4 linked regions of the Homo sapiens genome follow. The protein of the gene in region 1 interacts with the protein of each later gene in a pairwise test. Each region holds a gene or a part of one and is shown in the gene's direction. Other genes may lie near its edges.

Evidence for each region. The genes of interacting proteins can lie anywhere in the genome.
Region 2: the proteins of WNK1 (region 1) and CGNL1 interact in a two-hybrid assay, tested with the Homo sapiens proteins (one large-scale study listed by IntAct).
Region 3: the proteins of WNK1 (region 1) and CPAP interact in a two-hybrid assay, tested with the Homo sapiens proteins (one large-scale study listed by IntAct).
Region 4: the proteins of WNK1 (region 1) and EPB41L2 interact in a two-hybrid assay, tested with the Homo sapiens proteins (one large-scale study listed by IntAct).

Annotation. Positions count from the first base shown.
Region 1 is NC_000012.12:884,929-888,684, forward strand, and holds part of WNK1 (serine/threonine-protein kinase WNK1), read left to right. Parts: coding exon 1-1,156; intron 1,157-2,292; coding exon 2,293-2,376; intron 2,377-3,756. UniProt on the Homo sapiens protein: Serine/threonine-protein kinase component of the WNK1-SPAK/OSR1 kinase cascade, which acts as a key regulator of blood pressure and regulatory volume increase by promoting ion influx.
Region 2 is NC_000015.10:57,379,505-57,383,004, forward strand, and holds part of CGNL1 (cingulin-like protein 1), read left to right. Parts: intron 1-3,500. UniProt on the Homo sapiens protein: May be involved in anchoring the apical junctional complex, especially tight junctions, to actin-based cytoskeletons.
Region 3 is NC_000013.11:24,905,862-24,909,361, reverse strand, and holds part of CPAP (centrosomal P4.1-associated protein), read left to right. Parts: intron 1-1,235; coding exon 1,236-1,344; intron 1,345-2,168; coding exon 2,169-2,271; intron 2,272-2,401; coding exon 2,402-3,500. UniProt on the Homo sapiens protein: Plays an important role in cell division and centrosome function by participating in centriole duplication. Inhibits microtubule nucleation from the centrosome. Involved in the regulation of slow processive growth of centriolar microtubules.
Region 4 is NC_000006.12:130,958,746-130,962,245, reverse strand, and holds part of EPB41L2 (band 4.1-like protein 2), read left to right. Parts: intron 1-3,500. UniProt on the Homo sapiens protein: Required for dynein-dynactin complex and NUMA1 recruitment at the mitotic cell cortex during anaphase.

The DNA of each region.
Region 1 (3,756 bases):
TACAGTGCCCACTGAAGAGGGGATTGCTGGAGTTGCCACCAGCACAGGTGTGGTAACTTCAGGTGGTCTCCCCATACCACCTGTGTCTGAATCACCAGTACTTTCCAGCGTAGTTTCAAGTATCACAATACCTGCAGTTGTCTCAATATCTACTACATCCCCGTCACTTCAAGTCCCCACATCCACATCTGAGATCGTTGTTTCTAGTACAGCACTGTATCCTTCAGTAACAGTTTCAGCAACTTCAGCCTCTGCAGGGGGCAGTACTGCTACCCCAGGTCCTAAGCCTCCAGCTGTAGTATCTCAGCAGGCAGCAGGCAGCACTACTGTGGGAGCCACATTAACATCAGTTTCTACCACCACTTCATTCCCAAGCACAGCTTCACAGCTGTGCATTCAGCTTAGCAGCAGTACTTCTACTCCTACTTTAGCTGAAACCGTGGTAGTTAGCGCACACTCACTAGATAAGACATCTCATAGCAGTACAACTGGATTGGCTTTCTCCCTCTCTGCACCATCTTCCTCTTCCTCTCCTGGAGCAGGAGTGTCTAGTTATATTTCTCAGCCTGGTGGGCTGCATCCTTTGGTCATTCCATCAGTGATAGCTTCTACTCCTATTCTTCCCCAAGCAGCAGGACCTACTTCTACACCTTTATTACCCCAAGTACCTAGTATCCCACCCTTGGTACAGCCTGTTGCCAATGTGCCTGCTGTACAGCAGACACTAATTCATAGTCAGCCTCAACCAGCTTTGCTTCCCAACCAGCCCCATACTCATTGTCCTGAAGTAGATTCTGATACACAACCCAAAGCTCCTGGAATTGATGACATAAAGACTCTAGAAGAAAAGCTGCGGTCTCTGTTCAGTGAACACAGCTCATCTGGAGCTCAGCATGCCTCTGTCTCACTGGAGACCTCACTAGTCATAGAGAGCACTGTCACACCAGGCATCCCAACTACTGCTGTTGCACCAAGCAAACTCCTGACTTCTACCACAAGTACTTGCTTACCACCAACCAATTTACCACTAGGAACAGTTGCTTTGCCAGTTACACCAGTGGTCACACCTGGGCAAGTTTCTACCCCAGTCAGCACTACTACATCAGGAGTGAAACCTGGAACTGCTCCCTCCAAGCCACCTCTAACTAAGGCTCCGGTAAAATTATTGTTATAAAATAATTAGATAAATATGATCAGTTTTTTTTCTCCCTAATGAGTACATTTTTCACTTCAGCCTTGTAAGTTAGAAACATATTTATAAAGGTACCTGGCTTATAGTATTTATTAAATTGACAGCAGTTTGAGGGTATATCTACAATGAACATGAGATTTTTTTTTCAAGTGTGGCAGGATTTTAGGGTTAATTATGCTGCACAGTTTTCCAAGATGGTATAATTATCGGGTAAAATACAGGTATTTCTTCTGAATTGGTACAAACTGAAGAAGTCTGTATCCCAAAAGGGAGCTAAATGCATCTGTCAGCAAAATGTACGTAAATAATAGCAGTTCATAGTCTTTGTTTCAGTGAGAATGAAGCAAATTTTTGGTTTTGTTGTAGATTCCACAGTTGTACAGTTTGGGGGTTATAAAAAATTGGAAGTTAGTAAGGAAATTGATACAGAGGAGAAATAAATAATCTAATCCTAGGACTGAAGTAACTAAAATTTATTATCTAATTATGCTGTGGTGGATTTCCTCTTGTTCTGCCACCTTCTCCAAATAACAAGGCTGTGTTACGTCTACTGTATTGTATGCTTCAGCCTCTTTCTGCATTGCCATTGATGTGAGGTTCTTTTTATAGTAGGATAATGCAGAATCTTCACTCAGATAAAATAGAAATTCTTGATAATAGTATTAGATTTCTGATGCCTTTTGTTATCAGACCTGCCCATTGGTTATTTCTTAACCAGTTACTGTTTTCTTTTCTCAGAAAATCTTGTTTTACATGGCGAAAGTCTGATACATACTGTACCAAATAAGTAGCTCAAGAATATCTGGACACTGCCACTTATGTACATATAGCCTTTGTTCTGTTCTCCCTAGGGGACAACTTTTTACTGTATTTTACTATTCATTTTATAGGTATATCGTAGTAACCCCTATAATAACAACATTAGTTGTCACACCGTTTTTTTAAGACAGATACCAGAGAGTAACCTCAGTGATAAACATGTCTTAACTATATATATTTTATTCTTATGTTTGTGCATTCAAATTAGTTGATTTGCTCTTCAGTACGCAGTCTTTATATTTAGCGTCTCACGGACTTGATTTTCCCTTTGTTGTCTGTAGGTGCTGCCAGTGGGTACTGAACTTCCAGCAGGTACTCTACCCAGCGAGCAGCTGCCACCTTTTCCAGGACCTTCTCTAACCCAGGTGCCTCAAGACTTGACAAATTTCTTCCTGTGCCCTACTTTCTTTGACAAAGCTTGCTGAAGTTCTCCACTACGTGGTCTTGGCTTTTGCCTATTTGTCTTTGACTTAGTAACACCTTTCTTTTAAAATGTTATAACCAATGACCCAGTTCCTACTTAAGTAAGAAGCTTCATAGCTCTTTTGTTTGTAATGTTGCTTCCGGTTATCCAAAAACACTTGATACTAATTTTTTTTTTATATCTTATGAAGGAAGAAAACAGCAAAGCAAACATTTTGTCAGACCCATATAGCTCCCTTTATCACTCACACTTCTGTAGAATAGCGAAATTGCGTATATAATCAAAATTAACTTTGAGAGTGCCCTAGAAAGGAGAAGCACAATATGGCAACTGAGAAACTTTTTCCGCGAGTCCAGAGCAACCAGTCTCTTCTTGAATGTTGATCATTTCTTTCACTAGCCACCTAATGAAGGAATTAGCTTACTTATAGGTAGGTATAGGGGTGATGTTTCATGAAAACTATGTGTGCTGTCTCTTTTAAAATAAAAGCCACCGAGCTCAGTGAGATGCTAACATTATGAGATCACTCATGGAGGAACTGAGACCAGCCTCATGAACTTGAGATTCCCATCTCACACAGTTCTGCTCACTTGAGTGCAGTGGTGGACAGAATTACCTGTAATATTTATTATTTCTCTTTCCCACCGCAGTCCACCGCCAACACATTTGTTGAATTTCCATAAGAAAAGTACTAATTGTGAATCTGTTGTGACCAGGAAAAATCTTCTGACATGAGACAAGCCAGTAAACTTTTAAACTAAATTAGGAATTTATTTTTGAATCATATATAAGAAATAAGAAAAACATGGTAAATTGCTTACTTGAGAAGCTGAGTTGGAATTTATCCCTATTTCTTTGGTCCCAATGTACAGGGGAACACTATTTGAGGAACTTGCCACAATGAAGTAAAAACCCCAACAGAGAAAGCACTCCATCAGCCACCACATTTGGGGGAAAGTGCATTGTGAAAGTCCGTAAATCAGGAGTTAGAAAATTAGTTTTAAACTTATTTTCTCATTTAAAAACATGGATTCAGATTTCTAAGGGAGTATAAAGTGTGACAAAAAATAGCAAGTGAGACATGTGGAGGGGTAAGGGTAAATAGCTAGTGCCTAGATAGAGGGAAAGGCCTAAGCAAAGACTGTGCAAGAATAGATTGATAGAAGCCAAGACAGATGTAGGATTAGACTGTGGAAGGGTAGAAGGAAGCTGTGTGCTTGCGGTGGATGGAATGGTTAACAGGATGGAATACCCAGACCTCCTTGCCACCATCTGTAGGGAAGAAGTATACATGTAAGAAAGAGGAAAATAATACCCTGTG
Region 2 (3,500 bases), on another chromosome or scaffold:
GAGGGAGAGTTAAAGAAATTTAATGGCCTCCTAACTCTCTTTCCCCGTGAAACCCATTTATCTAAGAGATGCCATTGGCCTTTTAAAAATATCCAACTGATTTTATGCTTTTCCTTTCTTTTCATCTTCTGATCTCGGCACTAAAGGGCGGTGGCATGGCTGAGAGGTTGGCATCAGAGCAGGAAAACAAAGTTCAAGGGGAAACCAAAAATTGGGTAATTTTCTCTGAATGACCAAGTGCTTACTTTTTTCAGGCATGTGACATTGCTGTTATCAAGAAACCAGTTATGACATGAAAATCCTGAAAATGGAAAAGGAAAAAAGAAAAAAAAAGGGAATGGGGTGGGGGATGGAAATAGCACCAGGGTTGACTGACCTTTACCGAGGAGGGAAGGCTTAGTGTTTTCAGCCTGGTGTCCCCCGTGTCCCGATTGCAGCCCCCTGTACTTCTCTCCTCATGCACCCTCCTGCATCCCTCAAGCCAATATCCTTGGGGGAGATAGTGCTTCATCTTAAATTCACACTAAGGTGTCTTTTTGTTTTTGTTATTTGAGACTCTGCTCTGTCACCCAGGCTGGAGTGCAGTGATGTGATCTCAGCTCACTGCAACCTCCGCCTCCCGGGTTAAAGCAATCCTCCCTGCCTCAGCCTCCTGAGTAGCTGGAATTACAGGCATGCGCCACCATACCCCGCTTATTTTTGTATTTTTAGTAGAGATGGGGTTTCACCATGTTGGCCAGGCTGGTCTCGAACTCCTGACCTCAGGTGATCCACCTGCCTCGGCCTCCCAAAGTGCTCCGATTACAGGCATGAGCCACTGTGCCCAGCTGTTAGTAGCCCCTGTTACTAGCAAAAGCTATGTATTACCCAGAGTTGTTGGTAAACAGGATAAGGTTCCTGCCTTAAGGGGCCTGAGTCAGGTGGGGATGTAAACCCTGGGTTGCAATAAGTTAGGAACTTTTCTAATCAAGAGGAACACAGTGGCCCGTGGGGTACTGTGGGGCACCTGGCTAGCCTCGCCTGGGTAGATGCCTCCTCAATTCATTGGCACAGGAGGCATAAGACATGCTTTACTTGGGTTTACATTAAAGCTTATTCTATTAGGCCCGTACCCCAAATGACTGATTTTGGAAATGTCCGACTCCAGGAGCGAGAAGGGTGCAGGTATCCATCATGCAAAGGGGAGGTGGGAGGTGGAGGAAGAGAACAGATTCTGGCAGGTGTCTTTTGCTTCTGGAGTCTACTGAACAGGGGTACTTCCTGGGAGTGGGAAGCTCATGGAGAATGTGGCTGGATCCATTTTTGGCACATTAGTAACTGGTAAAGTAAGCTTAGTAGCGGCTACCTCCGCAACAGAGCTGAAAGGAGAATGCAAAGTGCAGTGTGAAAGCCGCAGCTGCAGCACTTTTTGGAGCAAGTGGTTGGGTTTGTATCTATGGCTCCTGCCAATGGGCAGACATTGGTTCCTCATCATACCATGGTTGCTGTAGCTCAGGCTTCCTTGGGCAGGCTGAAAACTGGACTTCACACTGTTTTTCCCTTGGGTAGGTGGTTTCCAAATAGCTGACCCATAGGGCTAATAACCTCATGGTTATAATAGTTACTATTTGTTTATTGACTGCCTTTCAAGTGCCAGGTAGCATGCTCAGCACTTTTCGTTCATTACTGTAAACCCTTTACATTCCTGAGAGGCAGGTGGCAGTGACCTCATTTTACATATGAGGAAACTGAGGCCCAAGGAGGTGCTGAATCCTGCAAAGGTGCATAGTAGTTGACAGTGGCAAAGTTCTCATGCCTGTAATCCCAGCACTTTGGGAGGCCGAGGCAGGTGGATCCCTTGAGCCCAGGAGGTCAATACCAGCCTGGACAACATGCTGAAATACCGCCTCTACAAAAAAATACAGAAATTAGCCTGGTGTGGTGGTGCGTGCCTGTGGTCCCAGCTACTCTGGAGGTCGAGATGGGAGGATGGCTTGAGCCTAGGAGGTTGAGGCTGCGGTGAACCATGATCATGCCACTGCACTCCAGCCTGAGTCACAGAGTGAGACCCTGTCTTAAAAACAAACAACAAAAATAAAATGGCAGAGTTGAAGTTCGAGAGTACTCTGGTCTGTCTGAATACAAAGCTAAGTTCTCTCTACTGTTTCTCGCTCCTCTTAAGCTGAGCTGATTAAGAAATTGTGTTCTCAGTGCCTTGTTTATTTTTTAACATCACAGTCTCCTTAGGTCTGAACTGATTTACTATTTTCCTCTACCTCGTGTAAATAGGAATTTTACTATTTTCCTCTACGTGAGGTAGAGGAAAATAGTAAATCAGTTCAGACCTAAAGAGAAAGTATTCCGCTAAAGGCCACTGCGACCTTGTGATCCCAAGGGAAATTTATGGACTGCTGCTTTTCTAGGTGTCTTAAAGAAGAGGGTAGATTAGGCTGTGCAGAAAGTCTCTGAACGGGTCCCACATCCTAGGTTAGAGAGACGTGATTTCCACCCTTCTTCAAGTTCTGCAAACCTCTGAGTTTCTGTAGATAATTGGTTGTTGGGTAAGAGATTAAAAACAAAATTCAGCGTTGGGCATTCTAGAATAAAACGAAGCTGTGCACATCCAATTCCTGTTTATGTGGTACTCGCGACAAAAACAAAACTTTGCTGCATAGTAATTACCTCAAGCTCTTAAAATTACAGGTAGTAAGGGCTTAGAGGCCATATGGAGTTATAATTAGAGATGAGTTTAAAAAAGGGCTAGTGAATGAATGTTCATTACTACAATGAGCACTAGCTGAATATTTCAACCCGAGAAGGATCAGCTCCAAGGAACATTTCCAGGGAGTTAGCGGAGGGTCGTCATGGAGTTAGAGTGTTTGGGATTAGTGCACAGAGCATTTGTTATGAACGTGCAATATTTCTGCCAGCCTGGCCAGAAGCCTCTTTGTTTACAGGGCAGGGTTTCTTCCCTGCTGCCCAATCACAGGGATTTCTGCTTTGCTTTGGTAGAGTACGTAATCGTTCAGGTGATTGCTTTGTAGTGTGTTAGGTCTGTAAAGCTCCTCGACTGTTAATAATCTTTTCCTGTTACTTATCTCTTTGCTGGAAGATTGAGGTAAGATGACCTCTAGTTTTGGCCTCAAGAATTCTCTTGTTTTTGACCTTTTCCCTTAGTTTTCTATCTTTGTGTTTCATTGCATTCAAAACAGGCCCTCTGTTTTCCCTTGCAAATTTATAGTCCACATAGGGAAGAGGAACGACTGTGACCAGGACTATCCAGGAATCCTGTGATGGGAGTGTTGTTAGTCCCATTTTCCAAGTGAGGACCCCTTCCTCTCTAAGGCTGGGAGTTTGGGTATTCCAACTAGGACTGTTAAACTTTCAACAATGGGGCTCTTTTGACTTGATTACAAAAGAAAAGGAAATGGCCCAGTTTTCAAAGTCATGAAGAGGTTCTAGTATATCTTATGAACTAATATATATCCTTGAACTCTTTTGTAGCTGACAGTATTAAAAAA
Region 3 (3,500 bases), on another chromosome or scaffold:
AGAGATGGGGTTTCAACATGTTGGCCAGGCTAGTCTCAAACTCCTGGCCTCAAGTGATCTGCCTGCCTTGGCCTCCCAAAGTACTGGGATTGCAGATCTGAGCTACTGCACCCAACCATAATGCCTTGTTCCTAATTTAGAGTTAATTCATCGGTGTGGAAAGCTCAAATATGTTTTTCTTCTTTTTTATACAACATGTTTCCATAGCCTTTTATTTTGGAAAATTTCAAACATCTAGAAAAGTTGAAAGACCACTGCAGTTATTACTGATATACCCACCACCTAGATTGAGCAGTTAATATTTTGCTGTATTTACTTTGTCAGTGTATGTATGTGTATATATATCTTTTACATGTATATCCTTATCTTTACTTCTATATGTGTATAATTTGCTGAACCATTTCACTGAAAATAATATGCAGGTATCTTGTTACTTCATTCCAAATATTTCAGTATGCATCAAGCAAAAATTAGGACATTCATCTGTATAACCACAGTGCTATTATTGTATCTAAAGAAATTAATGATAATTCCTTAATATTCAAGTCCATTTTGGGATTCCCCCAGTTATCCCAAAATATCTTTTAAAGGTGCTTTTTTTTTAAAGGATCCAATCAAATTAATGCATATCCAGTCAAGTTCATGTATTACGTTTGATTCTTACAACTCTTTAGCCTTTTTAATCTCTAGAAAACCCCACACTTTTTTCCTCATGACATTAACCTTTTGAAGAATGTCAAGTGTCTTTATTTTATTTTATTTTATTTTTGAGACAGGGTCTTCCTCTGTCACTTAGGTTGGAGTCCAGTGGCACCATCTTGGCTTACTGCAACCTCTGCTTGCTCTCAGCCTCCCAGGTAGCTGGGATTACAGGCATGTGCCACCACGCCTGGCTAATTTTTTTTTTTTTTTTTTTTTTTTTTTTTGTAGAGACGGGGTTTCGCCACGTTGGCCAGGCTGGGCTCGAATTCCTGGCCTCAAGTGATTCTCCCGCCTTGGCCTCCCAAAGTGCTGGGATTACAGGTGTGAGCCACCACACCCGGCCTCAAGTGTCTTAATTGGAGTTTTGTAGTTTCTCTTAATTATATTAAAGAATTCCTTGAGTGTTGTAAAATCTGTGATATACATTACTTTTAATTAAAAAAATGTTTTAGCATAGTAACTTGTAGAATTCTCATGTTTTAAGACATTAATATGCTTTTCTTGAGCTAAATTGTTCTTAATTTTTATCTCAGGAGAAAGTATCTTATGTTGGGAGAAAGTGACAGAACAGATTCAGGAAGCAAATGATAAGAACTTACAAAAACATGATGATTCCTCAGAAGTGGCTAATATTGAAGAAAGGTATTGTTCGTGTTGAAAGTGAGAAATGTGACTATTTAGTACAATAGCTAGCCTTTATTATTGAACACTTTCTTTGTTTGAAAGATCTATATTTTTCTGGTTTTTGCTTGACTATGCTTTTAAGGTTAAAGATACAACCTATTATGTACTGTCAACAACAAAAGAGGTTGAGGAGATATGTCAAGCTGCCTTGACATTGTATTCTCGAAGCTTTTTCACTTAAGAGAAACATCTGGATAAAATCAATTTTCTCTCAAATAGTTAAATCCTATTTTTGGAGAAGGGAAAAATTAAGTATTGACATCTCCCATTTGGTGTCACTTATCAATTATAATTGCATTATCAGTTTAGTTACAGAATTTTAAAATATGGCAAAGATTAAGTATTTTATATTTTAAGTAAGTTGATTATTTTAAAAATTTATTTCAAAATTTTTAATATAATATGGACAAAATGACTTTTCTGATTATTGTTCTCACATTAAGGGCCTTTCTTAATTAAAAAAATGCATATTTAGTGATCTATTTTTGAAATACATTTTAAAGTTATTTGATGAATATGTTACTCCATGTGTTAATCTGTGGTCGATAGATGGACTTCAGAAGGGTTCTTAGGACTCCAAAGTCATGTGAAGAGTGTTGTATGTTTCTTTATTTTAAGGTGTGGAGAGGGATTGTGGCTTTTGTTAGGTTCTCAAAGGGAGGCACTGATTTTGGGAAAAGTTAGTTCTCCATGTTGTCAAGGGTTTCTATACCAGGCACACTAAGTGTAAAATATTCACACATTATGATTTGCATGTTAAATAACTTTCTGTTTCTAATTAGGCCCATTAAAGCTGCTATTGGAGAAAGGAAACAGACCTTTGAAGATTACTTAGAAGAACAAATTCAGTTGGAAGAGCAAGAACTGAAGCAAAAACAGCTGAAGGTCAGCAATTGTGCTCTTCTGATTAAATCATTCTAAGGCTTTAGAGATTTATCTATAATTTGCCTTAAAAATAACTTTGAGATCACTTGGATATACCAAAATTAATTCAAATATTATTCTTTTATTTTAGGAAGCAGAAGGACCATTGCCAATCAAAGCAAAACCAAAACAACCATTTTTAAAACGAGGAGAAGGTTTAGCTAGATTTACTAATGCCAAATCTAAGTTTCAAAAAGGCAAAGAAAGTAAACTAGTGACTAACCAGAGCACTTCCGAGGACCAGCCGCTGTTTAAAATGGATAGACAGCAACTCCAGCGGAAAACCGCTCTTAAAAATAAAGAGCTGTGTGCAGACAACCCTATCCTTAAAAAGGACAGTAAAGCTAGAACCAAGAGTGGTTCTGTCACCCTCAGTCAGAAGCCGAAAATGCTGAAGTGTAGTAACAGGAAAAGTCTTTCTCCGTCAGGATTGAAAATACAGACGGGGAAGAAATGTGATGGGCAGTTTAGAGACCAGATCAAATTTGAAAACAAAGTCACATCTAATAATAAAGAAAATGTAACTGAGTGTCCAAAACCTTGCGATACTGGCTGCACAGGGTGGAATAAGACACAAGGTAAAGACAGACTTCCTCTTTCAACAGGGCCGGCCAGCCGGCTGGCTGCTAAGAGCCCCATAAGGGAGACCATGAAAGAGTCTGAATCTTCTCTTGACGTTTCTCTTCAGAAAAAGTTAGAGACTTGGGAACGAGAAAAGGAAAAGGAAAATTTGGAATTAGATGAATTTTTGTTTTTAGAACAAGCTGCTGATGAAATATCATTTTCTAGTAATTCCTCATTTGTACTGAAAATCTTAGAAAGGGATCAACAGATCTGCAAAGGTCACCGGATGTCTTCCACCCCTGTCAAAGCTGTGCCACAGAAGACAAATCCGGCAGATCCCATTAGTCATTGTAACCGCAGTGAGGATTTGGACCACACTGCACGTGAGAAGGAGAGTGAGTGTGAAGTCGCACCCAAACAACTTCATTCATTGTCCTCAGCTGATGAATTGAGGGAACAGCCTTGTAAAATCAGGAAAGCCGTCCAAAAGAGCACTTCTGAAAATCAGACTGAATGGAATGCACGTGACGATGAAGGTGTTCCAAATAGTGACAGTAGCACTGACTCTGAGGAACAGCTTGATGTTACCATAAAACCATCGACTGAGGATAGAGAGAGGGGCATCA
Region 4 (3,500 bases), on another chromosome or scaffold:
TTTAAATGATGAATATATTTGAGAAGCATCACCTCTTTATTTCCCAAGTAGAGTTAGGTGGCTGCTGAATCATTTCTACATTTGTTTTTTTTCCCTCACGTTTGATGGCATCAAATAGTGCATTATTAAAAGACCTTCTCTTTCAATAGCTATAGGCCCTTCGGGGAGGTGAACATACAAGCACGTGATTGTGGGTATCAGCAGGATGCTCTACATATCCTCTACCCACAAGCAGATGAAAACTAGTTTTATCCGATGTAGAAAATGGCCAGAACTGTCTACACATTGCCAATATGTTTTAAGTTCAATGGTTATTTGTTGCAAAGTTTTGTTGTTTTCTCAAAGCTCAAATGAAAGCCTCCCTCCATCCTCTTGCTACCATTTTTGAAGCTTAGAAATACATACCTTCCCATTTTGTGAATCTTGGATCCTTACAAAATGGGTTGAGCTCTCTTGGTAGAAATTAAAGACTCTCATATTGCTTGTGATCTCAGCAAAGAATGGGAGCTACTCAGCTGGCAGCAGCACCTACCCTGTTCCCTGCTCAGGGGTTTTGTTAACAGTAAGGTCCCAGTTTCCTCAATGTTTTAAGGAAACATCTGAACCCAAGAATTAGCATGAACCCCTTGCTTGAAGTTGTTTGTGTGTTTGTGAGGTTGTGTATCTGCTTTGCTTTGCTTGCTGTAGTATTCTGATTAAGGGCCAATGTTTTAAGTAGCATGATGTTATATGGTTGGCAGTTCAGCCTAGTGATAGAGATAGCACATTAGAATTTACCTCCTTTTTTAAACGTTGGAAAAAAAAGAATGGGTTTATGTAACACAGCTCCTTACCTAACCAGTACTGATCCTCTATTGATGATGGTTTTCTGCTTCATTGCATGTTAAATGATGCATGCTTTTTCTCATGAAGCTGTCACAATGACGAACACTTTTATCAACCCAGATGGAGCATGCCAACATGGTAATTGTGTCAAAACCACATGCTTGTCTAATGGGCGGGCTGTTCACAGCAGTGTTCTTTTTAGTTGATGATAAGTAGAAAGATCATTACTTAATGTATTATATAACTATACTAATGATGGATTTTGGGTAATTATAATTAAATATTAGTCAATGAGCATTGCCAGAGTTTGGGAAACCTTAGTTCCAGTTTTGGCTTGCCCATCTGACTTTACCATCTCAGGCAAATCTCCTGGTCTTTCTGATCCTCAGTTTGGTTGTTGATAAAATAAAGTGAGGATATTAGACTAGATGATTGAACAATACTCATTTAGTAAGTACTTAATAGATACCTATTATGTGCCAGTCTAGATGCTGGGAACATAGCAGTATATAAAAGAGAGATCCCAGCCCTCATGGAGTTTTCATTTTAGTGGGAATGTCAGCATTCCACTACAAGAGTTCTCATTTTCATGGGTGATAGAGTTTAAAGGCTTATCCACATATGAAAGAAACTCAGGGTTATAGGCATGATAATTAGGGTGAGTGGATGTACTGTAATCATGTTTTCTTGATGGTGGTAATTTGTTCAAGAAGCCATTTTATCAACAAAGAAGGTAGTGTTTTGTTTTGAGCTCTGTTGAACTCTTGAAACTGTTTCAAGAATATGTTGAGTAATGATCCAATTAGTCTTTTCCATTGTTTTCTGTCTTGTAACTTCCATTTGGATGGGTGACACTGATCATCACTTTTGAGGCTCTTAACCCTTATGGGTGTTGTGAATACAGTGGTGATTGAGGATGACTTCGTGAGGCTTAACCATATGGTTTTGTCGGTGCTCTTCCTGTCTGTATTTGTACTTTGTCTTCAGTGTCTGTCAACCAGCTCAGTTATGATTACATGGTCAAGCAATAACGTACAAATGGGATTTTCTTTGTTATTTAAATTCATCTATAAATTTCTTACTTTTAAGAGAGAATATTTTGAATAAATCTGAGAATACATTTATGTTATTTCATAGTCATTTTCACTAACTGGCAGGAACCTTCTTTGAGTACTAGGCCAAGGACTCTGTGGTTGAGTAGGTCATTCGTGCATAATGGAGCTGTGATTGCATTATGAAGTGTGTGTGAGGGAAGGTATACACAGCTGTGTGGTTCTCCATTAGTGGCTTTGGATAAGTGACTACTGTTTATTATTTGTAAAACAGGGATAATACATACTTTGTAGAATATTTTGAGAAACAGATTATGGGCACTGTGTCAGACAGTAAACAGTGAGTGGAAACCCTTATGATTAAAATATAAACAACTATTAATGCTTTTAACATAATAGTGGAAACTCAAGTTTTATATTTCACTGCTTCTAAAATATTTTGGCCAAAAATCAGCCTTAGTTGATTGGTTCCCAGACTATTTCTCACAGCCAAAGTAATTAGAGAGCTGCCAATTTATCTTGGTTAGCTTAGACAAGTATGGGGCATTTTGGTTTTAATTTTACCAGGACATTTATTCAGCTCTCAGAATGTAATTAGAGAGCATATACTAGAAATACACTTTGGTTATTTCATGATTAAAGTAAATAATATTGTCCACTTAAATAGTACATGGGAAATGGTATGTTAAAGAAGGAAAAAAGGTTTTCTGTGCAATATGGAGCCAGTTTACCTGTCCTCGGGTCTTGCTGGAAGACATACTTTTGAATTTCAGATGCCTGAGAATGAGAAGCAGCAAAGAATATGTGGGTATAATAGTTAACTATTCCCTCTTACGTAGCATTGCTGTCAGGGATATTACTGTCTCCTGATCTCCCTGCCTCACTACATATTTCTTCTGGCCCTCATGCCTTTTCTTCTGCCTCACCTTATATGTTGATGGTGATAAGAGCTCTTTTAAGGATCCTCTCAGTTTAAGCTACCCTTTTTCTCTAGGTGATGTATCCCCATGTGATGACAACATCCAAACCCTATCTCTAGTGTGTATCTAGTCTCCAATCAAAACCTGTGTGTCTTGGGGTCATCTAGACATCTCCACAACCTCTCAATCACAATGAATTCAAAATTGAATTATATGTGTCAGCCAGACCCACTTTTACAGGTGTTCCCCATTTCCATGAATGGTTCTACCATCACCCTAGTCTTCCTTGACCTGGGCCTTTTCCTTAGCTCTTTCCTCTCTTTGACTTTCTATATTCAGCCCGGACATCAAGTCATATCCACTCTACCTCTTTACCATTAGATTAATTTCTTGTTCTTTACCCTACTGTTTCTGCTGTAGTATATATAGACCATCGTCTTCTCAGGTCTGGATCAACCAGAGATCAGATCAACCCAATCTCCTGGATGTCTTTCTGCTTCAGTCTTTTCTTTCATCCTGTGCTTTACAGCCAGGTTGCGCTAAGTGAAATGAGAATCTTATTACATTTCTCCTCTACTTCAAGTACTTATGTAACTTCTCATTGCTTTTCAAATAACCCCCACATTGCCTTTAAAATAACACAAAATCTTTTATGTTTTGGCTTCTGCCTTCCTTTCTTACTTCATTATTACCAGTTCAGCTT